4 linked regions of the Homo sapiens genome follow. The protein of the gene in region 2 interacts with the protein of the main gene of each other region in a biochemical or structural test. Each region holds a gene or a part of one and is shown on either strand. Other genes may lie near its edges.

What was found.
Region 1: the proteins of HDAC4 (region 2) and YWHAQ are reported together in a solved structure, tested with the Homo sapiens proteins (2 studies listed by BioGRID, with this or other methods).
Region 3: the proteins of HDAC4 (region 2) and PTPA form a complex in vitro, tested with the Homo sapiens proteins (one study listed by BioGRID).
Region 4: the proteins of HDAC4 (region 2) and NACC1 form a complex in vitro, tested with the Homo sapiens proteins (2 studies listed by BioGRID).

What each region holds. Positions count from the first base shown.
Region 1 is NC_000002.12:9,620,989-9,628,013, forward strand, and holds part of YWHAQ (14-3-3 protein theta), read right to left. Parts: intron 1-7,025. UniProt on the Homo sapiens protein: Adapter protein implicated in the regulation of a large spectrum of both general and specialized signaling pathways. Binds to a large number of partners, usually by recognition of a phosphoserine or phosphothreonine motif.
Region 2 is NC_000002.12:239,132,017-239,139,041, reverse strand, and holds part of HDAC4 (histone deacetylase 4), read left to right. Parts: intron 1-4,398; coding exon 4,399-4,515; intron 4,516-4,598; coding exon 4,599-4,797; intron 4,798-4,803; exon of another isoform or gene 4,804-7,025. UniProt on the Homo sapiens protein: Responsible for the deacetylation of lysine residues on the N-terminal part of the core histones (H2A, H2B, H3 and H4).
Region 3 is NC_000009.12:129,142,415-129,149,439, forward strand, and holds the end of PTPA (serine/threonine-protein phosphatase 2A activator), read left to right. Parts: intron 1-30; coding exon 31-138; coding exon of another isoform or gene 139-486; exon of another isoform or gene 487-4,972; coding exon 4,973-5,050; 3' UTR 5,051-6,532; downstream 6,533-7,025. UniProt on the Homo sapiens protein: PPIases accelerate the folding of proteins. It catalyzes the cis-trans isomerization of proline imidic peptide bonds in oligopeptides. Acts as a regulatory subunit for serine/threonine-protein phosphatase 2A (PP2A).
Region 4 is NC_000019.10:13,135,239-13,141,647, reverse strand, and holds the end of NACC1 (nucleus accumbens-associated protein 1), read right to left. Parts: coding exon 5,495-6,409; intron 5,417-5,494; coding exon 5,243-5,416; intron 4,378-5,242; coding exon 4,272-4,377; intron 4,171-4,271; coding exon 4,073-4,170; intron 3,502-4,072; coding exon 3,242-3,501; 3' UTR 501-3,241; downstream 1-500. UniProt on the Homo sapiens protein: Functions as a transcriptional repressor. Seems to function as a transcriptional corepressor in neuronal cells through recruitment of HDAC3 and HDAC4. Contributes to tumor progression, and tumor cell proliferation and survival.

The sequences.
Region 1 (7,025 bases), about 230 Mb from region 2:
TTGTGGGGTGGAGAGGAGACAAAGTAAAACCACTTTCATAAGTCTAAGATATTTGCTTTTTTTCCACTGTCATTTTCTCACAAGTGGAGTTTTCCAGAAGCTACAGGAGGTGGAATACTACAATAGGTTGAATGAAATGCAATGCCGCTATTCTCATTCAATTTTTTGTTAAAGTTATTTTATTTTCTAAAAAGGGGTCCTGAGATCAAATTTGTGAACCACTGTCCCAGAGTATGGCCAATTAAGACGTCTTACACAGCATCTGGTAACTCCATCAATCTACTTAGCACTCATCACCCAAACAAAAAAGTGATGGTGCCAGTGATGTCTCCTAAGTGGGGATCAATACCGTTCTATACATTCTCGTATCTTGAGGATAACAAGACACAGGCTACACACTATCTTCTTGCTATATGTATTAAAGACACTCAACCAGTGATGTGAAATATCATAACCCCCAATACATGGCAACCAACAATTACAGTGAACACCCCCACATATCCACCACCTGGATCTTACCATTAACCTTTTGCCATACTTGCTTTTTCAGATACCCATACATTTCTAGCAGTTACAAGCTGAAGACATAAGTACAGGCATATCACTAGTTTTTTTTCAAAGCAAAATTTACATACAAAATGCACAAATCTTGGGTGTACATTTGCTGAGTTTTGACAAATGTATAAAACCCAAACCCATATCAACTAAAGAATACAATTATCCATTCTACTATAAAGACACATGCACACATACGTTTATTGCAGCACTATTCACAATAGCAAAGACTTGGAACCAACCCAAATGCCCATCAACGATAAACTGGATCAAGAAAATGTGGCATATATACACCATGGAATACTATGCAACCATAAAAAGGATGAGTTCATGTCCTTTGCAAGGACATAGATGAAGCTGGAAACCATCATTCTCAGCAAACTAACACAGGAACAGAAAACCAAGCACCGCATGTTTTCACTTACAAGTGGGAGTTGAACAATGAGAACACATGGACACAAGGAGGGGAACATCACACAGCGGGGACTGTCAGGGCGTCGGGGGCTAGGGGAGGAATAGCATTGGAGAAATACCTAATGTAGATGACGGGCTGATGGGTGCAGCAAACCACCATGGCACATGTATACCTATGAAAGAAACCTGCACGTCCTGCACTTGTATCCCAGAACTTAAAGTATTAAAAAAAAAAAAAAATACAATTATCCCAGAAGCCTGCCCCTTCCCAATCTCTGCCTATTCTCCCACAGAGGCCATTATTCCTGATTTTTTTTCCTACCATAAACAGGTTGTGTTTGTTCTAAAATTTCATATAAATGGAATCACATACACTATGTACTTTTTCATGCAAAGTTTCTTTCACCTAGCATGTTTTTGAAATTCAATCATATTGTAGTATCAGTGGTCCATTCATTTTAATGCTGAATAGTATTCCATTTATGAATACATCAGTGTTTATCAATTTTCCTACTAGTGGATTATTTCTAGTTTTCTGCTCTTAGAATAAAGCTGTTATTAACATTTTTGTACCTATGCGCCTTGGCCCCATGCATCATTCCCTCTTGCGTAAACACCTAAGAGTGGAATTTCTAGGGGAGGAAAAACTTATAATAGGGAATTTTAAAGGTACACAGGAGAACAAAGAATAGTACAATGAATTCCAATTAAAGCCAGCTGCAACTATATTAATTCATAGACACTCCTGTTTCATCTGTATTCCCCCAATTACTCTGAAGTCCTAGGTATTATCATCATTTTGTCTTTAAATACTCAATATGCAAACAATAGTTTCAAATCTAGTAATTTATCATATTTATCACTGACTTATCTATGGATTAAGAGTTTAATTAAAGTAGCAATGGATAAACTTTGCTTCTCTTCACATCTTTTAAATGATGTCTCTCTACCACCTCCCTGATATCCAGAAAGTCAGTGGTATGAATTCAGATACGTTTTCTGTTGCCATTTGGAAAGGATTAGTGTTAAATACAAAAACTGGTCTTAATGATAAAAATAGAGAACATTACCATAGCCAACCAGATTTCCCAACTGCCAAAGCAACACCTTGACTGAACTAATCCCATGCTATGGTATCATGTTCTAAATGAAACTACATGAGACTTAAAAATACTAGTTTTCTTAAGCAGTCCTTTGTGAGAAGGGAGGTGGTCCTCATACATCCAATACTGAACAAGGAGATAAGACGTTAAACCTTCTGGTCACCAGATTTTTGTTAGCCTTAAAAACTTGCTTGTGCTGGAAAGGGTTAGGGGAAATGAATGACCTTCTCAACCACTGCTGATGACAGTGTATACACATACCTTTTCAGAAGGCTATCTGGAAAAAACCGCACATCTTTTGATTTGGAAATTCCACTTCGAGAACTTAAGTAAATCCTAGCATAAAGCATGCAACAACGATCTTCTTCCCAGGGGTTGTTTGGAGAAAAATTGTTGACAGTGTTCACCACTGCATTAAAAGTCTGAACCACGGCCGGGTGCAGTGGCTCACGCCTATAATCCCAGCACTTTGGGAAGCCGAGGCGGGAGGATCACCTGAGGTCGGGAGTTTGAGACCAACCTGACCAACACGGAGAAACCTCGTCTCTACTAAAAATACAAAATTAGCCGGGTGTGGTGGTGCATGCCTGTAATCCCAACTACTTGTGAGGCTGACACAGGAGAATTGCTTGAACCCGGAGGCAGAGGTTGAGGTGAACCAAGATTGCGCCACTGCACTCTAGCCTGGGCAACAAGAGCAAAACTCTGTCTCAACAAAATAAATAAATAAATAAATAAAATTAAATTTAAAAAGTCTGAACCACATATGCCAAGCTACTATGAAGGAGGGGAGGAGATTTGCCGTTCATCAATTTTCACTGCATCTAATAGATTTCAATATAATTGCAGTCTGTGCGAAGTCTTTAAAAGAGCTCAGGGCTTTGGAGACAACTATGAAGAAGTGGCACTTTGAAAATATAGGACCCGGCCAGACACAGTGGTTCACGCCTGTAATCTCAGCACTCTGGGTGGATTGCTTGAGCTCAGGAGTTCAAGACCAGCCTGGGCAACATGGCAAAACTTCATCTCTACAAAAAATACAAAAATTAGCCAGGCATAGTGGCAAGTGCCTGTAGTCCCAGCTACTCCGGATGCTGAGGTGGGAGGATGGCTCGAGCCCGGGAGGTGGAGGTTGCAGTGAGCCCAGATGGCGCAACTGCACTCCAGCCTAGGCCACAGAGCCAGACTCTGTCTCAAAAATAAAAACAAATCAAATCAAACCAAACAAAAAATAGGACCCACTGAATAAGTTTCAGTAAGGTGAACTGTAGAGTTTGAACAGCATACACACAATAATGACAAGGGGAAAAATGACAAGTCTAGCTAGACAAGAGGTTCAGGTAAGATATCAACACGTTAGGAAGAAGCCAAAGGACAGCATGACACAATCCAATACAACTTAATACAGCTCATTTTATTTATGGACTAATCCAAGGCATCTCAACCTTGGCATTATTGGCATGGGGGGGGCTGGGGTCTTCGTTGGGGAGTGTCCTGTGCACCGCATGATGTTTAGTAGCATTCAGGCCTCTCTACCCACTAGACGTGAGCAGCACCTTCCTTCCTCAAGTCTTAACCCAAAAGGTCTCCAGATGTTGCCAAAATTCCGCTGGGGGCAGTGGGGAGTGGGTAAAATCACCTGGTTGAGTGACACGAACCTAACCTTAAACTTACAATATTCTATTTCACTCTTTTTTTTTTTTGAGACAAGAGTTTCGCTCTGTCGCCTAGGCTGGAGTGCAATGGCACAATCTCGCCTCACTGCAACCTCTGTCTCCCCGATTGTAGCAATTTGCCTCAGCCTCCCAAGTAACTGGGATTACAGGTGCCCGCCACTACGCCAGGCTAATTTTTTGTATTTTTAGTAGAGATGGGGTTTTATCATGTTGCCTAGGCTGGTCTCGAACTCCTGACCTCAGGTGATCCACCTGCCTCGGCCTCCCAAAGTGCCAGGATTACAGGCGTGAGCCACCATGCCCAGCCCATTTCATTCTTTAAAAAACAACAACAAAAACCTTGGCTGGGGCACATCTCTACCAAAAATACAAAAAATTAGCCAGGCATGGTGGTGCATGCCTGTAATCCCAGCTACTCGGGAGGCTGAGGCAGGAGAATTGCTTAAACCCGGGAGACAGAGGTTGCAGTGAGCTGAGATGGCGCCACTGTACCCCAGCCTGGGTGGCAGAGCAAGACTCCATCACAAAAAAAAAAAAAACCCAAACCCCCCAAAACTCTTGCCTTTAAGCAGCCTACAATCTAAGGGCAAAACCCACAACGTCAATGAGTTTTTAAATCTTATTACACTATTGTGTGTATAAGAAAGTCTTCAATATTACAGACTAGGAGTTTTGCCCATCACAGGTCTACCTTCCTCGTTAGAAGCATTAATGTCTTATATTTATTAAAATGCACAAATTCCTCAAAACAGAAATTCACACCATGGTCTTAAGTGAGCTGCCATGTACTTAGGGCCTACTGTGTTTCATGTCATAAGCAGTTACACCACTTGGGTTAAAATCCTTGCTCTTAACACTTACTAGCTTTGTAATCTTGACCACATTACTAACTTCTTTATGCCTCATTTTCCTCAACTCTGAAACAGAGATACTATCAACCTACCTTAGGGGAGCAAAGTGAGTATAAAGTGCTTAAAATAGTGTTTAGTGTGCAGTGAATACCTGGTAAATGTTAATTATGAGCCATTATTCTAACTACAAGCCCATAAAGGCAGGCACCATCATCAATTTACAGAAGAGAGAGAGTCTGAGGGATTAAGAAATTTGCCAGAGTCCACGAAAATAAAAGGTAATGGAGCAACGATTCAAAAATTGATTCAGAGCCCATACTTTTTCCACTGTGTCAATAAAATCACATTCAGATTCATTAACTATGAAGAAAAACATATCAGTCTTACTAAAAAATAATGAGCAGCGTAAGACATTTTTTATTGAGATTAAATTTAAACACAACTAAATTCAAGCATACTACTCAATTAAGGTTACAAAGCTTTTACACTAAGACAGACAACTTCCAGAGATTCCCTACATACTATTTTAACTCTCATTTTTAAAAATTGCGATATGCACTTTAGTTTCTGAAATTGTTTATGCATTATGCTGAAGTAATTTACTGAAATTCTACTAGAACTGATGTACAGGAGAGGATAATATGATGTCTAAGATAGAAATTATCTTGTATACACTCAAACTGCCTGGTTCTTATTCCAAGGTCACTGACTTTGTAAATGACAGATTTTGTTCCCAAGTCCCAGAAGAGCTTTGTGAACCCCTCTAACTTTTTCCATTTGCCCTTCCCTCACATCCAAGTTCTTCTTAATGACTCCTAAACATCTTACCTGTAATATTTAAGCCCAGGGTTTTGTTTTTGTTTTCAGAGTCTCGCTCTGTGGCCCAGGCTGGAGTGCAGTGGCACATCTCGGCTCACTGCAACCTTCGCCTCCCAGATTCAGGTGATTCTCCTGCCTCGGCCTCCCGAGTAGCTGGAACTACAGGCATGTGCCACCACGCCTGGCTAATTTTTTTGTATTTTTAGTAGAGACGGGGTTTCACCATGTTGGCCAGGCTAGTCTCCAACTCCTGACCTCAGGTGATCCACCAGCCTTGGCCTCCCAATGTGCTGGGATTACAGGCATGAGCCACCACATCCAGCCAAAGCCCAGTTTTTTTGTGTCTAAATTTTGCTCTTGCCAACACTCAGTAAGATCACCAATGACTTCTGCCTCACTTCTTTCTGAAGCCATTTCCCTAAAGTCACCAGTTTTCAACCTGTCATGTATTCTTCAATCTGGACTTTAAAAACTACTCATTTAAGAGGTGGAAGGATGTCAGAGCAGAGCAGAATGGCTAGGACCTGCATTACTCTACAGCCCCAAACCATGAGAACTCGAAGAGACTTAGAAAGTTAAGCCCAAAGTCTTCGGTTTTACAATGACACTGAGAGACAGCTCTAACTGGATGAAATCTTAACTCCCCTCATCTTAGAGAGTTTGGTTCACTTATAGTTCTTTACTCTTGGATTTTAACATTTTTTTGTGCTTCCACGGTTCAGTAACCTCTTTCAATACCGTGATTATCAAAAGGGTTGAGAGTTGTTCACACAGTTATTTTGAATACATGGTTTAAGTAATTCTGCCCCAACCTACTCTATGAAAGGGAGGAGGCTGAGAATATCTGCTCTTTTCTACCAAAAATTTAGCTATCCTTCATGTTACTTTAACTAGTCTTCTATAATTACCAAGTTAGTCTCACCTCCTCCACACCAAATCTTTCTTCCTGTTCACCAAAGGAAAAAAAGAAAACCCTATGTTAGCACGCATGTTCAAAAACTTTAGGTGTTACTCTACTTTCCTAGACTCCTTATTAAATTACTAACTCATCAATTATCACTTGTCTTATAACTTCCTTATCTGTCAGTTCAGATCACAGACTGGTTAGTCAGCCCTCAAACCACGAATTCTAGATGCTGCTACATGTACAGTGGTGCTGACATCTGTAATCCCAGGACTCTGGGAGGCCAAGTCATGAGGACTGCTTGAGGCCAGAAGTTCAAGACCAGCCTGGGTGTAACAAGATCCCATCTCTACAATAAATAAATAAAACTTTAAAAAAACCAGTTTCCCATGAACCAAATGAAGAAACCCCCCTTACTCCAATCTTCTATAAATGATGATGGCTGCCTTCCTTTCCAGGCTTGTCTCCTGCAGCAACTCTGCACATGAACTCTGCTCCAGCCACACCGACACACTGTTCCCCGAACAAGCCCTACCCCGGATATTCCTTTAATACTGACACCTCCGCCAGCCTCTTCCCTCAACGTTCACCCCAAAAAAACGGTATCTTTGTGAAGCCTTTTCAAAGGTTTCTATTTCCTTCAGACTACATAGCATTGTGTTCATTAACCATCTGATGGGAATATTGTGGTATTTATGTTTGT
Region 2 (7,025 bases):
CCACAGTCTGGGAGGGACATTGGCAAGCTAGAGAGGAGTCAGGGGACGCTTGGAGTCCCTAGGTGGGAAAGATGTCAGAGACGCAGGAGCTGAGTGGCAAGGCAGGGAGGAGTGGCGCCCAGGCTGGCCGAGTCGCACACTGACCATACTCGGAGGCTTTCCAGGGCAGCAGGTCCGAGGACCTCGCTCCGTGTTCCTTGAGCTCCTTTGCGCCCCCTGCCTTTATCCCACACGTGTCCCGAGCGCCTTGTGCCAGGCCCAGGGACAGAACCAGGCAGGCAGCAAGGACCTGCCCCACACTCCACACAATGCCCCACTGACAAGGAGAGGCCACCCCCAGAGCACGGGGAAGAAGAGAGAGGCAGAGAGAGGCAGTCCCGCAGGCTGAGTGGTGCCCTGGGCCTGGGTGGGCCTGACTGCAGGGCAGGGGTGGGAGGGGTACGCTTTAGCAGTGAGTTTTCTGATGAGTTGAGCTGGAAATGCTGTGTCTGCTTCATGGGGCAGAGTTCTACTGAGTGGGAGGTTCTTTCTGAATTCTCTCCAACTTACAGAAGGCTATAATTTATTAAATATAGTTATTGACTTTCCTTCTTAAATATTTAGAAATGAATCCTGCCCTTCCAAAGGATTGGCAAATCTTAGCTGGGATACAGAGGCATGAGTGTTTAGCATTTTCATTTCAAATTTCAAGACCGTTTATGTATAAACATTTTTAGAGACTAGAATTACTGCTCAGAACGAATTTTGCCCTTTGTCTCCAGGCTGCTTAATCCCCAATTTCTCTTACTCTTTCTACTTCATACATCGATTTCTTTTATTACCTGTCTTCTTCAGCCTGCCAACTTCAGTACTTATTTAGATGATTAGAAGTTTTAACAGTCCTCTGTATGGCTGTGGTCATAGCTGAGGTCTACCAGTAATAAGCCTTATAATGCAACCTAGAAATTACTTCCTGCCCTGAGGTTAACACTGGTTGCATCTTGTTGATTGTGGTCCTAGATACATGTTTTTATTTAAAATGAGGCACTTATGTACATGGTAGTTAATATTGGAACAGTGCCTTGTTTGGGTGGGTCTGCATCATTCCAGTTCTGTGTTAATTTTTAGAAATCACGATACGTAAATGAAGCTACTGGAAATTAATAGAACATGTAGAAGGAGTTACAGGAAATACCAAGAGGTGCCATTGTTCATGTTCCACATCAGATGTTCATTAGAGTGGGCACGGGCAGCCTTTGCATGTTGGATCACACCCAGGCGCCCTTTCTGGGTTTCAGTATCTCTAGAGTTGGACGGGTCTGTGAGAACACCTGTGCTTCATGGCCAGGGGCTGGCTCTCCGTTCTCACGTGGTGCAGAGTGTAGTGAGCTTGCCCGTCAGAGGGGGTGTCTCGAGTGGATGAGGATGTGGGGGGAGCAGGGGCCTCCCAGCCTGGCTCTCAGCACTGCCTTTTCTGTTCACCCTGGGGTCCCTAGAAACACTACTGTACCTTGAAGGCCCCCTGGACCCAGGGAAGCCCAGTGTGCCGGGCACCTCCTCCTCTACAGTGCCAGGGAGGCCCAGAGTGCCGGCACCTCCTCCTCTACAGGCCAGGGAAGCCCAGTGTGCCGGCACCTCCTCTACAGGGAGGAGGCAGGGCTCAGAGAGTGAGAGGAAGTCGCCCAGGTGCGTAAGGGGACAGCTCCTCTGTGGCCGCTGCTGCTGTTATTTACACGCGTGCCTGGATGCTCTGACCTCAGGCCCGCGGACTTTCCCTCTGAGCACATGCTGAGATGCGGTCCGGGGGCGCCAGCCTCAGAATGCCTCCCGCAGGGCTCGGCCCCGAGGCAGCAGATGCCAGAACGCCCTGCGATTTCTCAGGTGGACCAGTCGGCATCTCCAAGGAACAAATTCTCAGAAGCCTCCTTTAGTTCCAGAAATGGGCTTAAAAAAAACCTTGCTTACAAAGGAAATGAAAACTTTGCAAACATTAGAACGTCTCCTTATTTTGTTCCCAAATGATAACACAAGCATTTCCTCTACAGCATAACTTACTGATAATTCTTTAACTTTTGACAAAAAAAAAATTGCCTAGGAAAAATGTTTTCCTCAGTAGCCCTTTAATCATTCCTTACACAATGTAATATGTGAGCAAATCTAAAGGGAGTTGCAGGGTTTCCTCTGGGGCGAGGTGCGCCGTGAGTTTGCTCCTAAGTGAGAAGGCCGGGCTTTCTGTTCTGTAGGAACAGCCTGAGTGTAAGTGTTTGTCAGGAGAAGCGTTTCTTCCTATCCCCAATGGCCAGTCATATGTCTTTGGGGAAATGTCTCTTCAGATCCTTGGCCCACTTTTATACTGGCTGCTTCAGGTTTTGCTGGTGAGTTGCTGGAGTTCCCGCATGTTCTGGATACTGCTCCCTTGTCGGATGAATGGCTTGCACATGTTTCCCCTTCCCACAGGTCGTCTCTTCACTCTGGTGATTCTCTTCCTTTGCTGTGCAGAAGCTTTTTAGTTGAGCAGAGTCCCAGTTGCCTGTTTTCGTTTTTGTTGCCTGTGCTTTTGAGGTCTTAGCCATGGATCTTTCACAATAGCCAAGAGGTCGAATCAACCTCAGTGTCCTTCAGTGGATGAATAGACAGAGAAAATGTGGTGCTGTACACAGTGGAATACCATGCAGCCATCAAAAAGGATAGAACCCTGACATTTGCAGCAACATAGATGGAACTAGAGGCCCTCATGTTAAGTGAACTAAGCCAGGCACAGAAAGACAAACATGGCATTTTCTCATTCATCTGGGGGAGCTAAAAACGTTGCTGTCATGGAGGTAGAGAGTATAATGAAATCTGTTATCTATTCATTATTAACGTTAGCTTCTGGCAAGGGGATTTCTATCTGCCAAACCCCACTAACTAGCATGATTACAACAACATTTTATTCCTTCTCTTTGTTTGCCCATTCATTCAGCAGACATTCCTTGAGTAGCTACTGTGTAGGGGATATAGTGGTGATAAACTATTGTCCTTTTTAGCAAAACACGTTCATTCTACAAGCAAAAAGATGTTAAATATCACAGTAGTTCAAGTCCTTGGAGACTGTTGCTGCTGACTCTTCCTGTGTGGCCTTCTAATCTTTACTCCTGGCTTGTGTTTGCTTTATCCAAGCCCATTCTTTAAAAGGTACATGATCTATAACCTGTTTTTCTAACTTAATGTATCATAAACAAGTGTCCAAGTAATCAGCTAGATCGTTCCCAACCCCCAGAGCATCCCGGTGTGCAATGCCCCTCCGTTCTGTTAACACCAAGGTGTCGGGGAAGCCGCATAGCTCTGCCATGCCTGCTGGGTGCTCGGCCCTGCAGCGGAGGCTTCATGGGCATCAGGCCATCTCCTTATTTCTTAACGTTACATCCCAAGAGTGGAGCTCCAGCATCAAAGGTTAGACAGATTTTGAAGGCCTTTGACATAGATTGCCAAATTGTCCTGCAGAAAGGGTGCCACTAACTGATTTGTGATTCACCCAACAGTGTTCGCCGTTCCTCTAGGCCAAGATGGTATTACCATGTTTCAAAAGTGTTTGCCAATTTGTTGGGTTTCAGAATACCTTTTTTGATGACCATGATGTGTTTTCCTGAGCGCCTTCCCCTTCCTGAGCTCTGCCGTCACTGGTCCTCACCGCGTGCTTTTCTCACTGTTAGTTGTTTGATTTGCAAGCTCTCTGTGCTGACCCTCGTCTGCCTCATACATGGCCAGTATTGTCATCATTGCCCACCTTTCGTAGAGGCAGTTGTTTTATGATTTTCTCTTTATTTTTAATTTTTGTGGGTACATAATGTATATATTTGTGGGGTACATGAGATGTTTTGATACAGGCATGCAATTTGTAATAATCACGTCATGCGAAGTGTGGGATGTCCATCCTCTCCGGTGCTTATCCTTTGTGTAACAAACAATCCAATCATACCCTTATAGTTATTTTTAAATGTACAGTTAAATGTTATTTCCTTTTTGTTTTCTGCCTTTGATGTTATGTCTGGAAAGACATTGCCAACTACAAAAAAGCATTGTAAACTATATTATCCTAGAAACTGCAAAACGGCATTGTAAACTATATTAGCCTAGATTTCCTTCTAACTGTTCTGTGGTAAATAATCAAACTGAATAGAAATCAACGAGATGATGCTGGACAAGGTGACAGAAGAAGAACTCGTATCGGGAGGAGGAAACTGGAGTGGTGAATTGTGCTTTCATGTTGTGGCACGTGTTGAAATCTCATGCTCTCATTGCTGTCTCATTTGTTACATGTACGTTTACGCTCATATATCAGAATTCAGTGCAGGTGTTTTCATCGTTGTTTTTCTTGGTGTATATTGCTGATGTTTGGCCGTGACAGACTGTGATGGTCATCGTGTGTTCTGTCCCCAGACGAGTTTGGCGCACAGACTTGTGGCACGAGAAGGCTCGGCCGCTCCACTTCCCCTCTACACATCGCCATCCTTGCCCAACATCACGCTGGGCCTGCCTGCCACCGGCCCCTCTGCGGTAAGTCAGCCCCCGTGGGTCCGTGTGGTGTGGGGTGGTGGTGATGGGTCCTTCCACCCGAGCATCCTGGCTGTGCTTTCCAGGGCACGGCGGGCCAGCAGGACGCCGAGAGACTCACCCTTCCCGCCCTCCAGCAGAGGCTCTCCCTTTTCCCCGGCACCCACCTCACTCCCTACCTGAGCACCTCGCCCTTGGAGCGGGACGGAGGGGCAGCGCACAGCCCTCTTCTGCAGCACATGGTCTTACTGGAGCAGCCGCCGGCACAAGCACCCCTCGTCACAGGTGAGCACAAATGGGCCTGGGTGCAGCCAGGCTCTGAGGCTGCCCACGCTCTGGATGGTGCCCCGCCTTCGCCTGCCTTTGGAGGAGACAGGAATGCACGCCTGTCCCACCCCCACAGTTCCCAAACACACATCCCCATCACGTGATGTAGCCACCGTGACTGCAGTGAAAATCCATGCCTCACTCCCAGAGTCAGGTAGATGGAGTGGAAACAGAAGTCACTTCCCCTTTCTCACCTTTTGGGAGAGGCCACCGGCTCTTGCGATTTGGGTTTCTGTCTGGACCAAGCTGAGCCAGCGCTGGAAGCCCAGAACCGACTCTTGTGGTCAGTTTGTGTTAGCGAACTTTTACAAATGTGCACTGTCTGGGGGAGTGGTTACATTTAGAAAAATACAATTTAGAGGAAAATGGGAACGTCCTTATGAAATTACATAGCAACAGCAATGTGAAAGTGTCACTTCAGAAATGAGGGCACACCGGCCGGACACGGTGACTGACACCTGTAATCCCAGCAGTTTGGGAGGCCGAGGCAGGCGGATCACGTGAGGTCAGGAGTTCAAGACCAGCCTGACTAACATGGTGAAACCCCGTCTCTACTAAAAATACAAAAATTAGCTGGGCGTGGTGGCGCACACCTGTAATCCCAGCTACTTGGGAGGCTGAGGCAGGAGAATTGCTTGAAATTGGAAGGCAGAGGTTATAGTGACCCGAGATGGTGGCACTGCACTCCAGCCTGGGCAACAGAGCGAGACTCCGTCTCAAAAATAAATAAATGAGGGAGCAGCTACCTACCCCCTTGCCGTGCGGGTCATCGTTGTACATCTTCATAGCTTTGTGTTTGGCTTCCTGGAAACCTGTTGTTGCCAATTGAAAGCTGAAATACCCTCAGAGCTGCACCTGTGAAACTCTGGCAGTGAACTTGGTGAAAACTCAGGGGCTTGGCGTGTTGTAGGAGGCTGCGCTGCAGGATGCGTGGGGCTAGGGGCTGGCTTGGGTGGGCTTGGGCCTCTGGCTTGACTAGTCTGGTGGATTTTGGTGTTTTCTTGTTTTGTGCTGCCCATGTGTCTCTGTTTAGACAGAGAGGATTCCTTCTTATTCCTTCTTTGCCCAGAAGCCAAATGGCGCAATCTTTGTTTTGTGCCTGAGCCCCTTTCTGTTTGTTTCTCCAGAAGCTTGAATTCGTGTCCCTGCCTGTCCAGAGCAGAGGAGCCCGTGGTGTAACGAGGGAGGGGGCAGCCCTCACAGTGCCTCTCTGAGCTGCGGCCACAGTGGCAGGCACGCGGATCTCTCTGGAGGAATGTATCTGAGGTTGCGTCTGAGTCTCTTGGATGCTCTAGATCAGCTGGCACGAGTGTGGGTAGTGAAGGACACCTGAGTTTCTCGCCTGTCTTTAAAAACGTAAAATGTGCCTGATCTTCAGGATTCCTGGGATTCACTTCGTCAGAGATGTTTGTCACTTATCTTCTTTCCTTCTCTAAATCAGTTTATTCTGCACGATTAAATAGCATGCGTAATCTTGTGTATCAGGTTTTTGGAAAACAGCCTTTTTGATAGAACCTGGATATCGAGTGTGCATGGGTCTCACCTCTCTGAGAAACGCACTGAACTCGGCGTTGCTTCTTCCCTGTGTGCGCTCATCCCTCTTTTCCTCCCAGGTGCAGCTTGCTCGTTGGCATGGGGACCTGCCCACCGTGCCCTGCCCAGGCTCTGTGCCACCAGGGGGCCCATGCATGGTTGCCCAGCTTGCTCTGGCCTTGCTTTACGCCTGTGCCCAGCAAGCCCCTCCAGTCCTATGCCGCCACCTCCAAAACCCTGCAAGCCCCTTCTCTCCTGCACAGCCTCCCCAGGTTGCCAGCAGCTCATCCTGCAAACCCCCTGGCAGGGAGCCTCGGAGCCAGTGTCACGTGTGCAGCGTAGTGCAGCCACACAGCCGCCTCTGTCCCAGCTTTCTCCTGCTCCATGACCCTGGGAAGCCGCTTATGCTCTGTGTGCCTTGTTTTCCCATCTAGGAAGTGGGGATACTAAGCGGTCCGCCCCCGTGAGCCTGATGAGGGTTAAGTGGGCTGTGCACTCATGTGCCCCTGCAGGTGTTGGCATCATTGTTGTAGTCATTGCCTTGTTCTTAACCTGCCACCTCCCATGCTCTCTCACTCCCCCAGCCAGCCCCTGTCCGTCCTCAGTGTCTCAGGGGCCCTCCCCCAGCCCCGCCATGAGCAGGGCCCTCATTT
Region 3 (7,025 bases), on a different chromosome or scaffold from region 2:
TCTCTTCAGCTTGTGGCTTCTCTTTTTCAGATGAAGACTGGCCCATTTGCAGAGCACTCCAACCAGCTGTGGAACATCAGCGCCGTCCCTTCCTGGTCCAAAGTGAACCAGGGTCTCATCCGCATGTATAAGGCCGAGGTGAGTGGGGGCTGGCCAGTGTGCCCGTCCCTGCTGCCGCACTTGGTCCTGGGCTGGGGACAAAGCAAAAGATGTGGAACCTGGGGCTCCTGCTTCCTCCTACCCCACTGTTTTGCTCTGAATCTTAGGCCAGCCCCTCTGACACTTGGGGCCTCGGAATCTCCCATCTGGGGCATGGGCAGTCAGAGAAGCACCAGCCACCCCAGCCCCGAAAAGCTGCAGTCCAGCTCTGTCCTGATGAGCTTGGAGGCTGAGGCAAGGACCTGCTGCATGGGGAGTGGGGGCGATGGGGGCCTCCCTTCTCCTTTATCAAGTGGCCAAAGGCTCCTCAAAGCTCGGGCAGTCTGAGTCTGGCTCTCCCATGGCATACCTGGGAAGGGTCTTACCCTTTGGAGGCATCTCCAAAGTGCTGCCTTCAAATGTTAGTGTGTATGATCACTGAGTGGTGGGAGGTCTGAGGGTAGGCCGAGAATTGGCATTTTTATGGACCGCTTCAGGGATTTTGATGCAAATGGTTTTCCCTGCTCTCAAATCAGATGCTGAGGAGAGGAGAGCTGAGGCTTCCTGGAGCTCCCCCTGCTGGCAGGCAGCCGAGGGTGTCTCCTGCCCTCTTGGCACTGTTCTCCCAGCCAAGGAGGTGGCCTTTTCTCTCTTCCAAGTGGGGAGGAGACATTTTATTTCTACTCTGTCCCTTCTGCTAGCTCCTCCCACTTCCTGGGAAGACTAATTCTAGAACTGCTTGACCTTGGCCAGGGAAGGGCTGGATGTGAAGTTCCACACCTGGAGTGATGGGTCCTTAAAGTCCCTTCTTTCTGTTCTCAGGCTGGCCCTTGTGACTAGTTCATGGCCTCAGACACTGTACTGTGGGCACCATCTCTTGACTCCTGGCCGGCCTTCTCTTCTGGGAAGGGGCTGCTCCAGGTCTTCATTGGACCCAGAGCTTCCTGGATCCCATCAGCAGAGGCGGGACAACGGGGAAGGGTGCCAGAGGCCAGCGGGGTGGGGGAGCACAGATGCTTCCAGTTGGCTTGGCTCCCTGCACTTGGTCCTGAAGGGGTTAATGAGGCTTGAACTGAACAGACCGGGCCCTCACTCCCTTCCGCCCCCTCCCCCTTTGGTCCCCTTCCTCTGGACCTCACATCCTGTGTTTAGGTTCCAGCCCACATACCTCTCTAATCTGAGAGGCCTGAGAGCCCGTTGGCTGGAGCTGCCTAGGTTCCTTCCGGCTGCAGCTGGCCACCCCCGGCTCTCCACTCCGACTCTGCCCTGGGTCACTGCCCTCTGGTGTCCTGATGTTCCTGACCCCACCCCCGCCTGTCCCACAGTGGGGGCTGCTGGGGAACTCTCACTCTGCTGTGCCCCGCCTCCAGGGTGTCTGAGCATGTGAGAGGTGCACATCGCCCACCAGCCACCTCCCAACCCCAACCCTTGTGTGCCAAAGAGAGGACTCTGGCTGCCTTCTCTGCTTGGTACCTGAAGTACTGTCTTCTCTACAAGCCTCTTAATTCAAGTGACTCTAAACTTCTCTCGACTCAGGCTCTAAGGCCCAAAGGATAGGGCAAGAGACCCTGTCCCCTTCTCTCACCTGCCCTTCCAGAGACAAAAGAACTCCAGGCTGCCAGAGGATGAGGGAGGAGCATATTCGGATTGAAAATGGTGATGGTGTGGCAGGAACACAGGGACTGTCCACTCTGCACAGGCTGTCGGGGTCTCCGTGGGGGCTGAGCACAGGGTGGCAAACACAAAGAGGACACTGAAAATGACCAACTCAGGATGGGGGAGCTCTCTAGTAATCTGAAAAAGGGAGATTCTAGCCCTAGTTGAGGCCGGCGCTGTGTGGGGAAGGGGACAGGCTCCTGTATAGGGTGACGCTGGAACTCCCTGACTTTAAGATCACCAAGTCAGGCCGGGCGTGGTGGCTCACGCCTGTAATCCCAGCACTTTGGGAGGCCGAGGTGGGCGGATCACGAGGTCAGGAGATCGAGACCATCCTGGCTAACACAGTGAAACCCCGTCTCTACTAAAAATATAAAAAAATTAGCCGGGCGTGGTGGCGGGTGCCTGTAGTCCCAGCTACTCGGGAGGCAGAGGCAGGAGAATGGCGTGAGTCCGGGCGGTGGAGCTTGCAGTGAGCTGAGATGGTGCCACTGCACTCCAGCCTGGGCGACAGAGCGAGACTCTCTCAAAAAAAAAAAAAAAAAAAGATCACCAAGTCTTTGCCTGTAATCCCAGCAATTTGGGAGGCTGAGGTGGGTGGATCACTTGAGGCCAGGAGTTCGAGACCAACCTGGGCAACATGAGGAAACCCCGTCTCTACTAAAAATATAAAAATTAGCTGGGTGTGGTGGCTCATGCCTGTGGTCCCAGCTACTTGGGAGGCTGAGACGGGAGAATCGCTTGAACCTGGTAGGCGGAGGTTGCAGTGAATTGAGATCACACCACTGCACTCCAGCCTGGGCAACAGTGTGAGACTCCGTCTCAAAGAAAAAAATCACTGGTTGGGTGCGGTGGCTCATGCCTATAATCCCAGCACTTTGGGAGGCCAAGGCAGGTAGATCACCTGAGGTCAGGAGTTCATGACCAGCCTGGCCAACACGGTGAAACACTGTGTCTACTAAAAATACAAAAATTAGCCTGGCATCGTGGTGCGCACCTGTAATTCCAGCTACTCAGGAGGCTGAGGCAGGACAGTCACTTGAATTTGGGAGGTGGAGGTTGCAGTGAGCCGAGATCATGCCACTGCACTCCAGCCTGGGCAACAGCGAGACTCCATCTCAGGAAAAAAAAAAAAAAAGATCACCAAGTCTTTGCAGTGTTCAACACTCATTGACAACTTACTAGCAACTAGCCCTTAGTCCTTGGTCCCGAAGGGCCCATGGGCTGGCATGTTGCCTACACAGAGGTCCAAGGAGAGGGCTTGTTTTCTCAGGCCAGTTCTTAGCCCCTAAGGAGGCCCTCCAAGGCCTGCCAGTCTTGCAGTCCAGGGGTGGGTAGGAAGGCTGGGTCTCCAGTCAGAACTGGTTGATTGAGGGGAGTCAGCCTCCTGGGCTGCCACAGAAGTCTGACCAGCCTGGCAGTAGGTGGCCTCAGGATTTGGGTCTAACTCTGCTCTGTCCCAGCCTTTCTGACCGAAGAACCAAGTGCTCTCAGGGGCCTTGTGTGGTTGCGGGGCGGCGGGGGGGAGGGTCTGTCTTTCCTCTGGGCCATGGCTGTGTGGGTGCTGCCTTCAGAAGGACCTTGTCAGGACCCAGGGAGTCCCTTCCCCAGCTTGAATCACCTCTGGCTGGAAGGTCAGGGGGCAGTCTGAAGCCGCTGCTCCGCCCAGGTACATGGGAGGGCCTTGCTGGGAGAAAGGCTGGGCTGGAGGCTCCTCCTGCCCTGGAGCCTTAGGCTTCCTTGGCCCAGCTCCTGTGGCTCTGAGGGGGCTGGCTCTGGGGTCCTGTGGGCAGAATGGGAAGAACCCCTGCCTCCACCCCTTCTCGCCTTGCAACTTCTTCTATGGGAGCTAGAGGGAGGTTGACCTTTGACCCCTTCTGGAATTCCAGGGCCCTTGGGGGGTGGGGGGGCTCTTATGACCACTTCTGGGATGACATAAGCACCATGGCAGCTGCCTTGGCCTCTGGCCTGGATCTGCGGCTGCTCCCCCTCCCGCCCAGGGACCACCTCCCGCTCCCTGCTCCCGCATTCTGTGTCTCAGGCCCAGGATCCTGGCTGTGGCCAGGGCTCTGCTCCCCACCCCACCATGAGCTTGGTTTCCATCCTTCTTTCCCTCCCCTCCTGGCGCCTCTTTGGCCCACTCGTCACCCTGGTGCTTCTCCCTCTTAGGTTCCACAGCTGATTTTTGAGGAGAGGGAACCTGGGCCAGTCATAGCACCCGTTTGTCTCTAAGTTAGTTGGAGGTTAAGATCACAGCCACAGAGTGAGGCTCTTACTCTCTCTGAGGCCATAAGTCTTGTTCCACCCCAGCCAGGAGGTGCCTAACATACTCTGTTTTCTGTGGCCAAAGGTGTGGGAGGAGGCCCTGGTCAGTCTTGGCAGATCCAACCCTCGCATGCCCAGAACGGCTCCTGTGAGAGCTAGTGTCCAGGTGTGGCAGGCATGGGGGTGCTGTTGCGGGAGCTGCAGCTGGAAGCTGGGGTTGGCTGCCTGTGGGCCAGGCCAGCTTCTGTGATAGGCCCTGTCACTTGCTCTCCAGCTCTGCTCCTCTGCTAGGAGCCCGGGCTGGGCTGGGCTCAGGGAGTCGGGCCTCCCCCGTGCTCAGCCATTCCCCTGTTCAGCGCTCTTTTTCCCCTGCCCCCCACACAGGCTGCTGGGAATTGCCCAGGGGTGGGGGGAACTCAGTGTCAGCTGGTTCTTATTGTCTCGCTCTGAAGTGCCAAGATGCCTTTTTCAGTCCAGAGAACTGAAAGCTGGAGAAAACAGGCTTTGGGACCCGGCCTCAGCCTCTTAGGCTTACGTTCAAATGTCCCCACGTCTCTTCTCTAGAACTGGGACCTGGGCTGGGGGTCCCCAGTGATCAGGAGGGTTCTTTCCACCTCAGGTTCCCAACTTCCCTCTCTGGGCCAAGTGATGGCACCTGGCTGCCTCTCTTCTCGGTTTCTACCTTGTAGGTTTGGGCTGCCTTTTCTCTTTCTCTCTCTCGTGGGTCTCGTTGTGGAGTGGGTGTCTTTGGATAGAAGGAGTGAGGAACTGGGGGAGGAAGGCCTGGGGGATCCCCTGGCGGGGCTACTTCCTGGGCCCGGGATGGACACCTGGGAGCTGCTGCGGTTGTTGGGGTCCTGGCAGGGGTGTGGTGTGGCCCTCACCACTCTGCTCACCTGCTCCTTCCTCACAGTGCCTGGAGAAGTTCCCTGTGATCCAGCACTTCAAGTTCGGGAGCCTGCTGCCCATCCATCCTGTCACGTCGGGCTAGGAGGGGCCAAGCCGAAGAGCCACCCAGGCCACAGTTCCTGTGCCTGCCTTCCCCACCCCAGCAGTGGCCCCTCCCCATCCCCTCCCTCTGTTCGTCCCGTTTGATGAGAGGCTGTTTACTGGGGTGGGGTGGCGAGATGGGCTTGAGGGGGCTCAGAGCATAAGGCTTCAGGGCCCAAGTTGGGAGAAGTGACCAAAGTGTAGCCAGTTTTCTGAGTTCCCGTGTGCTAGACTGGCCAGAAGAGAGGGTCTGGGGCCTGGTCACTCGGCCACTCTCTCCTGTTTCTGGCCTCTTCTCCCTTCACTCCCGTCCAGTCTGGTTTTGAGAGCAGGGGCTGTTCTGCAGCACCGCAGGGAAGGGAGGAGAGATACCTGCTGCTTCCATTGCTTTTCCCTTCCTGGAGTCGATGCCTTTCTAAGGGTTGGAGCTGCTCCTTGCAGGGGCGGGTCAGTTTCCCAGGCCATGCCGGGGTGGCCATCTATGGTAGGGCTGGAAGCTGAGGCTGGCCGCCAGCTGTGGGCTGGGGTGGGGTGGGTGGGGTCGGGTGGTGGAGAGGCCTTAGCTGTCCTGGCTGGTGCCCCTCCCAGGCTCCTTTTCACCCTGCCCCCTGGGCCTGAGGCCCCCTGTGTCCAAGCCTCCCCCTGGCTCTTCAGTTCTCTAGCCCTTGGCTCTGCTGGGTTTCCTGACTGTAGCCACATCTCTCCCGCTCCCTAAGGGTAACCTAGCCAATGGAAGCTGCCCTTTGGGTAGGTGCTGGGCTCCTGGGAGGGCCCAGATGATGGGGTGAGGCATGTCTTTCCAGAACTTTCCCTGGCAGGGAGGGGATGGCAGAAACTCAGGGAGGGGCTTGGGGCCCATTGTATCTGGAGAGCCTGGATTCCTCTTGGCAGTCTTAGGCCCGGCCACTTCTGCTACCTTTGCGCTGCTGTGAGCCTCACCCTGGGCCCCTGGGCCCTGCTTCTCTGCTCCCCTGGGTGATGGGTGGGCCCAGAAGGTGGCAGTCCCACACCTTGTCCTCCCACCTCCCTGAACTGTCCATTGCTTTTATAGGGTGAGGTAAGAGACAGCCTCCCAAGCCCAGGCTTTGGCACTCAGAATGGGCCCAGTGGGGGCTGGGCAGGCCCATTGAGGGCCACCGCCGAGGTTTCTCCTAGGGCTGTTCCTGGGCCTGGCTCTTACAGGCTCGTCCCCCAGGCCTGCCCTTCTCCACTGCCCCCTCCTGTGTCTGGGTCCACACACCCTTCAGGAAGGGGGAGCACTGAGAAGCACAGCACAGGGGCTCAGCCTGGGATCCGGTGATGGTCTGGGCAGAGGCTGGGTCAGGAGTCCCAAAGGTCAGTGACAGTTTCTCAGAAGAGGCCCAGCGTCCACCTCTCTCCCAGGGCCAGACAGCCCTTCCTGGCTCCCCCATCCCCCTATGGGCTCCCAGCCCCTTGCACCCTCATTGCTGTTCAGATTAAAGCCTCTGTTTTGCACCTGTCACTTGTGTGAGGTATGTCTTTTCATGTCACATGTTTAACCCATTTCTGCATGACTGACCTCCATCAGGTCCCCTTCTCTCAGGCCACAGTGTCTGAGACGAGCTGTTTCAATTTGGGTTGAGCCTTTCCTGGGTTTAAATCCTAGCTGTCTGCAGTCCCAGCTGCAAGGTTGTAAGTTACTGAAGCCCCTGAGCCCCAGCTTCCTCAATTCACAAAATGGGGACAGTCACAGGGTGACTGCCAGCAGTGGACAGCAGATGTGAAGTCCTCAGCTCAGGGCCTGGCACATAGCATATCCCGGGTGGTCACTGCAGCTGTGCTTGGTGAAGGGGGCCCCTCTGGACTCCCAACTTAGCCCCAAGCTGGCCAGGGAGCCTTTGGATGGGCTTTGACAGTGGAACATGCACCTGTGGTTTGTGAGGGGGTGGCCCTCTATTCTCCCTCCTCTGCCCCTCCTGTCCCTGCTGGGCTGGAGTTGAGGGTCTCTGGGGCTG
Region 4 (6,409 bases), on a different chromosome or scaffold from region 2:
AAAAAAAAAAAGAAAAGAAAATGCTGGGCGCGGTGGCTCACACCTGTAATCCCAGCACTTGGGGAGGCCAAGGCGGGTGGATCACCTGAGGTCAGGAGTTCGAGCCCAGCCTGACCAACATGGTGAAACCCTGTCTCTACTAAAAATACAAAAATTAGCCGGGCATGGTGGTGGGTGCCTGCAATCCCCACTATTTGGGGGGGCTAAGGCAGAATGGCTTGAACCCAGGAAGCAGAGGTTGCAGTGAGCCGAGATCGCGCCACTCTAGCCTGGGCGACAGAGTGAAATTCCATCTCAAAAAAAAAAAAAGAAAAAAAAATTGTGTGTGTGTGTGTGTGTGTAGGACCAGCTCATATGTTGCGTTATCTGTATCTGTTGGGGTAACTTGCATGCGTGTTAGAATCGGAGGCTGTCAGTTTGCAGTCAGCAACCTGGGTCTGCTGGGCACAATGCAGGTGTGTGTTCCTCCCTGGGCCCCCAAGTAACGAGCATGCGGCAAGGCTGTTACAAAGGCGTTTAGTTTATTCTCATCAGTATCACTGATATTCTCATGGTTCACATTTGCCAACGCCGCTCCTCTCCTTACAGTAGTTAAATGTGCAATCTCACTTGGGGGCCCAGGGAGGGGTGGGGGCTCGGCCCAGGGTGGGGAGGGCGTTGGCACTTCACGTGGACAGGGTGGGCAGCCTGTCCTGCGTGAAAGAGGTGTGGGTTGAGTGGGCGGCCAGGGAAGGGGAGTTGGCAGGGGAGGGCCCCACAGTCTTTTTTCTCTGGTGGTTGGTGATTCTCCATTCAGATTCCTTCCTGGCTGCCCAGGGTGGGGGAACCATGCAGCTCAGGGCAGGGGAGGAAGAGAAGGAAAAAGCAGCAGGCCGCCCAGGGGTAGGGGTGGAGGGTGAATGGCAGGGCAAGGGGGGTACAGGGGTGGCTCCTGGGGTAAGGCACAACCCTGTCTTTGGCTCTCCTGGTGAGGAGTTTCCTCCCCTGCACCCCCTGCCCGACCCTTCTCCCCACCCCCCCACCCCCCGGACCCACACACAGTCCTGGGAGCCAGGGGGCACCTCCTGGGGTCCCTGAAACAAGTGGGCTCTGCCACCCAAGCCAATGCCACAGGGGCTCGAGGAGGGACACCCGAGGAAAAGGCAGAGAGGGGCAGGCAGGGGCCTACCCAGGACAAGGGGGTGGGGGTGAGAAGACCCCAGGCCCAGGAGCTGGCCCCCCCACCCCAACTAAGGCCTGGAAGTGGGGGAGCACCTTCCTTTCAGGGGTCTGGCTGGAGCCCCGGTCTGCCCCTCGGCCTCCGTCAGGCCCAGCCGCTTGCCAAGTGACCAGGGCATTGTGCTTTGGGGTAAACGCTGGGGTGGGGTGGCAGGCCAGGAGGCGGGGGGAGAGGAGGGGTGACTAAGGTGCTTGTGCTTTAGCTGGGGGTGTCAATATCCCCCACTCAGGCCGGCTGGGGGCTAAGGTTTCAGGCCCCGGCCAGGAAGACAGTGCCAAGACCCCAGCCAGACCCTGGCACTCATGACTGACCCCCGCAACAAGCAGATGTTAAGAGGGACCCCCAGTGGGCCGGCGGGGCTGCTGGTCCCATCGGGGGGATGGTCTCCAAATCAGATTACAAGGGTCCAGTAGGGGCTGGCCCCCACCCCATCTCCTAAAATCCCCCTGCCCCTGGAGAGACCCCTGGGAGCAGTGGGTAGGTGGGGGTTGGGGAGGCAGATGAGAGGCAGGGAGGACGAGGGCCAGAAACACAAACAAGGATGTGGATGTGGATGGTGAAATGACACCCTGCATAGGGGGATGGGGAGTTAAAAAAGAAAAAAAACTGCCTTCACATGAAAATCTAAAACAACAACAAAAAACCACCCACTCTGGGCGAGAACAAAAAGAGAGGAATGGTAAAAGAGAAAATTCTGCAAACAACTGCTAACAATGGAAGTGGACCCGGCCCTGCCCTGCCCTGCCCAGCCCCCAGGAGCTGGGCCCAGCCAACCAGCCAAGGCCTGGGACACCCTTAAACTATAGCCCTGTTGGGGAAGGTGAACAGGGGAGGGGGACCCACAGGACCCACAGGAGCCTAGGCAGCAGCTGGGACTGGAGTCCTACCATGGAAACACACACACACACTCCACACATACACACCCACACACACACATTCAGCCTGCCCCCCAGCCCCCCAACACCGCCCTGCCTTCCAAGGCCCCCCACCCCTGGGGACCGAGGGGGACAATAGACACAGCCCCATTGGTTTGAAAAATAAAAGGAATCTTATACTTCAATATTTCATTCGCTAAAAAAAGGTTTTAAAAATTATGTACAGGGGGGTGGGGGCCAGGAGCCCTGCTGTGGGGTGGGGTGGGTGTGGGGAGATGGAGGGAGGGGCAACAGCCCCCCAGTCTGCTCCCCTGGGTTCCAACCCAGGTCCTACTGCCTCTTGTATCTTCATTTGTTTGAAAGCAAAACTTCTGCACACACACACGCACACACTCTGCCAGCCCTGGAAACCTCTCATTCTATCCTCCGAGACCCTCGGTCTGCCCCCAGGAGACCCCCCCTCCTTTAGGACCTGCCTCTCTGAGGCCCCAGAGGACCAAAGGGAGCAACAGAGGCGGAAGAGGAGAAAGGGCACCAGGCACGCCACTGCCGGCCACCTGAGGTCGGTTGTGCAATTTCTCGGAGCCTGTTTCCCCAGCTATAAAATGGGTAGTCCCCACGGCCTCGCCTACCCCAGCCCCCAGGCGCAGGGATAGACGAGGGTGACAGGAAGGCGCTTTTGGAGACGTGGAAGCACTGGGAGGTGGTGGGAGGGGTCCTGAGAACCCCTGGGGCCCCCCTCAAGTCCCAAGGGGCTGCAGTGAGGGGCGGAGGCTGAAGGCTTCCGCGAGGTGGCCTAGGGCCTGGGGAGGGGCCTTCCCAAGACCCCCAGGCCAGCCCCCTCCCCTGGTGGGCCTGGTGAGTGTGGAGATGACGGCTAGGGGTTAGGTTGGGGAGCCAGAACTCCCCCACTGCACGAGTGTGTGTTAAAGAAGGCAACACGGACCTCACGCCACCTGCCCTGCGGTCCTCTCCCGGCCCAGCTCTCGGTGGGGAAAGGGGGTAGGACAGGAGGGGCAGAGGGCCGGGAACATGCAGCACCCACCGCGGGTCCTGGGGAGGGACAGACAGTAGCTCATGACCAAGATGGCAGGTGTGTGTGTGTGTTGGGAGGGGAAGTGTGTGGCCCCGCGGGAGGCTGGGCGGGTTACTGCAGGGCTTCAGCCGAGGGACCCGCCTCGCCCTCGTGGCTGGCGGTCTCGAAGCCATGCTCCACACCCATCATGTCCGGCTCGATCTTGCCCGTTTCACTGATGAAGGTGGTGTAGGCGTCATCCTCAGCCTTGAGCACCTTGACCTTGGGCATCCAGCTCTTGCGCACGACGCGGCGGGCGTTGGTGCACATGTCGGCCGCGATGGCATTCATCTCGCTCTCCTTGAAGTTGGGGGCGAAGTTCTGGCAGTAGTCTGTGGGGCAGGGTGGGTGCGGCCTTGGCACGGGGGCCAGGTGACTCCCACAAGGCCTACTCACCAGCTCCCCTACAGCATCTGCGACTCCCTCTCAAAGGGGAAACGAGTGAGGCCACGCGGCCAGGACACCACACTACGTGCACCCAACCCTACACCGGACTGAGTTCAGCCATGTGTGGGGATGTGTTGGTTTTGATGGGATGGCCCCGTGTTCTTGAAAAATTCGGATCATTTGCCAGAATTTAGTAACGGGGAGTGGTCACTTGAAAATCTAGATGCCCCCCATGACGAGTGGCTAGCACTGTCTGGCTGCCTCATCCCTCCCAGACTGCCCTGAGTTCGAGACCCTCCTGCCTGACACAGGCTCCCTGGCTTCCCTTCGGCACGTGCATCCCCCAAACACGAAGAAATCTCTAAGCAATCACAGCCGGTTTCCCAGCAAGGCTAGAATGAGCCCCAGAATGCTTCTCAACACTGAACTCTAGCCCTCTCTGAGAGCCAAGGCTGGGAAAAAACGTCAACCTGCGTGCCCCGGGCCCACGCCTCGTCCAGCTGGGCCAACACTCACACTTGACAGCGTGGAGCACGCGGCTGTCCAGGGGCTTCCGACGGGGATCGTTGGTAGAAGAGCGGATGCCGGTGCCGCAGCTGTTGGCCAGCGTGTTCCTGGGGGCAGGGGACATGGAGGGAGTCAGCGCTCAAGTTGGTGGTGGGGGGGACATGGGGAAACCCCACCCCCCTCCCTGGGGCTCTGGCAAGGGCCTTACCGGTCAAAGAAGGAGGCCAGGAGCCGCCGCAGTAGGACCTTGTGCCGCGTGCCTGCGCTGACGTGGCAGTTCATCAGCTGCGCCCTTGTGATGTACACGTTGGTGCCTGGTGAGAGGAAGCCGGAGGATGGCCTGGGGTGCCCCCAAACCGCCACAGCCCCCATGATACCAGGCCTCATCTCAGAACACCCCAGGCCCTCCCTGCTGGGCTCTGGGTCCCAAGAAAACTCACCCAGGGACCTTCTCCCCTACATCTCTACCCACCAAGGGCAGTCAGGGGAGGCTCCTTGGGGCTCCCCCAACCTCATCAGTGCTCAGGAAAGGACAGAAAGGGTTGCTTCACCATCCTCGGGGTGCCTGCTGTGTGGCCAGTCGTGCCGCAAGCCTGTGTGAGGTGGGCACGCTGGCTGTCACCAGCTAGAGATGAGCCCAAGCTCAGCAGGACCAACAGGGAGTGGAGGCTCACACCTAGGCACTCTGACCCAAGGACCAAACACAGTCTTCTTCTTCTTTTTTTAAGAGATGAAGTCTCACTCTGTCACCCAGGCTGGAGTGCAGTGGCCACCACAGCTCACTGCAGCCTTGACCTCCTGGGCTCAAGGGATCCTCCCACCTCAGCCTCCTGAGTAGCTAGGACTACAGGCATTCGCCCCTGTGACTGTCCAAATTCCTAACCTAGGTAGTAGCTGGCCTTCACAGGAGCCCGGGAAGTAGCTAATCTACCCATGCGGCCAAACAATAATAGCCAATGCTCGCCCCGACCCCTTAAGCCAGAAACCTAGAGGCCAGGCCTTGCTGTATCAGCTCCTCCATCTCACCAACGCCCCCACCCTTAGGGTGGCTGTTACCAACACTACAGCACAGATAGGGAAACTGAGGTGCTGGGGGCTCCTAACCAGCTGCCCAGCCCAGCCCAGGCCAGCCGGCTCCAAAGCTGCGGAGGGGAGAGATCTGGGGCGAGACCGGCCCACCTGTCACCAGCTCCAGCTTCTCAGAGGGGTCGCCCTCGTCGTAGAGCTTGGGGTGGCAGCGGTTCCCAATCTGGTTGATAAGTTCAGCCGGGAGAGACGCCAGGTCTTGCCGAACCCGGATGCGATTTCGGGACTCGGGGGCTACCTGCTCCGGGAGGGCCTCCACCTTCTCGGCTGCAGGGAGAGAGTGGCACGCGAGTGGCAGGAGGAGCAGGGGTGGCTGGTGGGATGGGGGACAGGACGGCACCTCACCTGTCTGGCCGACGTTCATCATGCTGTACATGGTGTACATGTTGCAGATCTGCCGGTACTGCTCATCCATGCCCTCCTCGCCACCATCCTCCTCCTCGTCCTCCTCATTGTGGTAGGAGCCAGGGCTGTCGCTGGTGTAGGCGCTTGAGGTGCCTGGGCTGGTCCGCTCCGACGTGCTGGGCCCACTCACCACACCCCCTGCTGCTGCCACCCCACCGGCTGGCTGCCCTGCTCCCGCAGCCACGGCGGGCTGGGCTGCTGCCACCACCGGAGCCTGTTGGGGTGGCGGGGGCTGGTGAGGCCGGTTGGCAGCCAGGTCCGGCGTGGAGAACTTGGCCATCTTGCGGCTGCCATTGCCGCCGCCCCCAGCCTCCTTCTGGCCACTGTCCCACAGCCGCTTGGCCACGGGCATGCACTGCACGGAGTCCGACTCCTGCTGCTCCGTCTTCACCCGCGACACGAGGGGCAGCGGGGTGCTACAGGCTGGCCAGCCCGATGTCTGCGCCACGGGGCTCTGGGGCTCCGACGATGGGGCCTCCTCCGCATGCAGGCCCTGGGAGTCGCAGCTCGGGGAGCTCACCTTGAGGAAGAACTCGGTGCCCTTCTCCATGATCTCCTGGATCTGCAGGAAGCCAGCCGTGTACATGAGCAGGAACTGGTCGCCCACGTTCATGCTCAGCCGGCCCGTGTAGCAGAAGCTGAGGATCTGCTGGAAAGACTGGGGCTGCACAGCCGCCGGCAGCTCCACCACGGCGCTGCGGCTGTTGTTGAACAGGTCCCGGAAGTAGGAGCTGCTGGCAGCAAGCACGGCCCGGTGGGCCTTGAAGGCATGGCCCTTGACCACCACTGACACGTCACAGTACAGGCCCTGCAGCCGCTGTTCATTGAGGCACTCCAGGATGCTGTTGCCGAAGT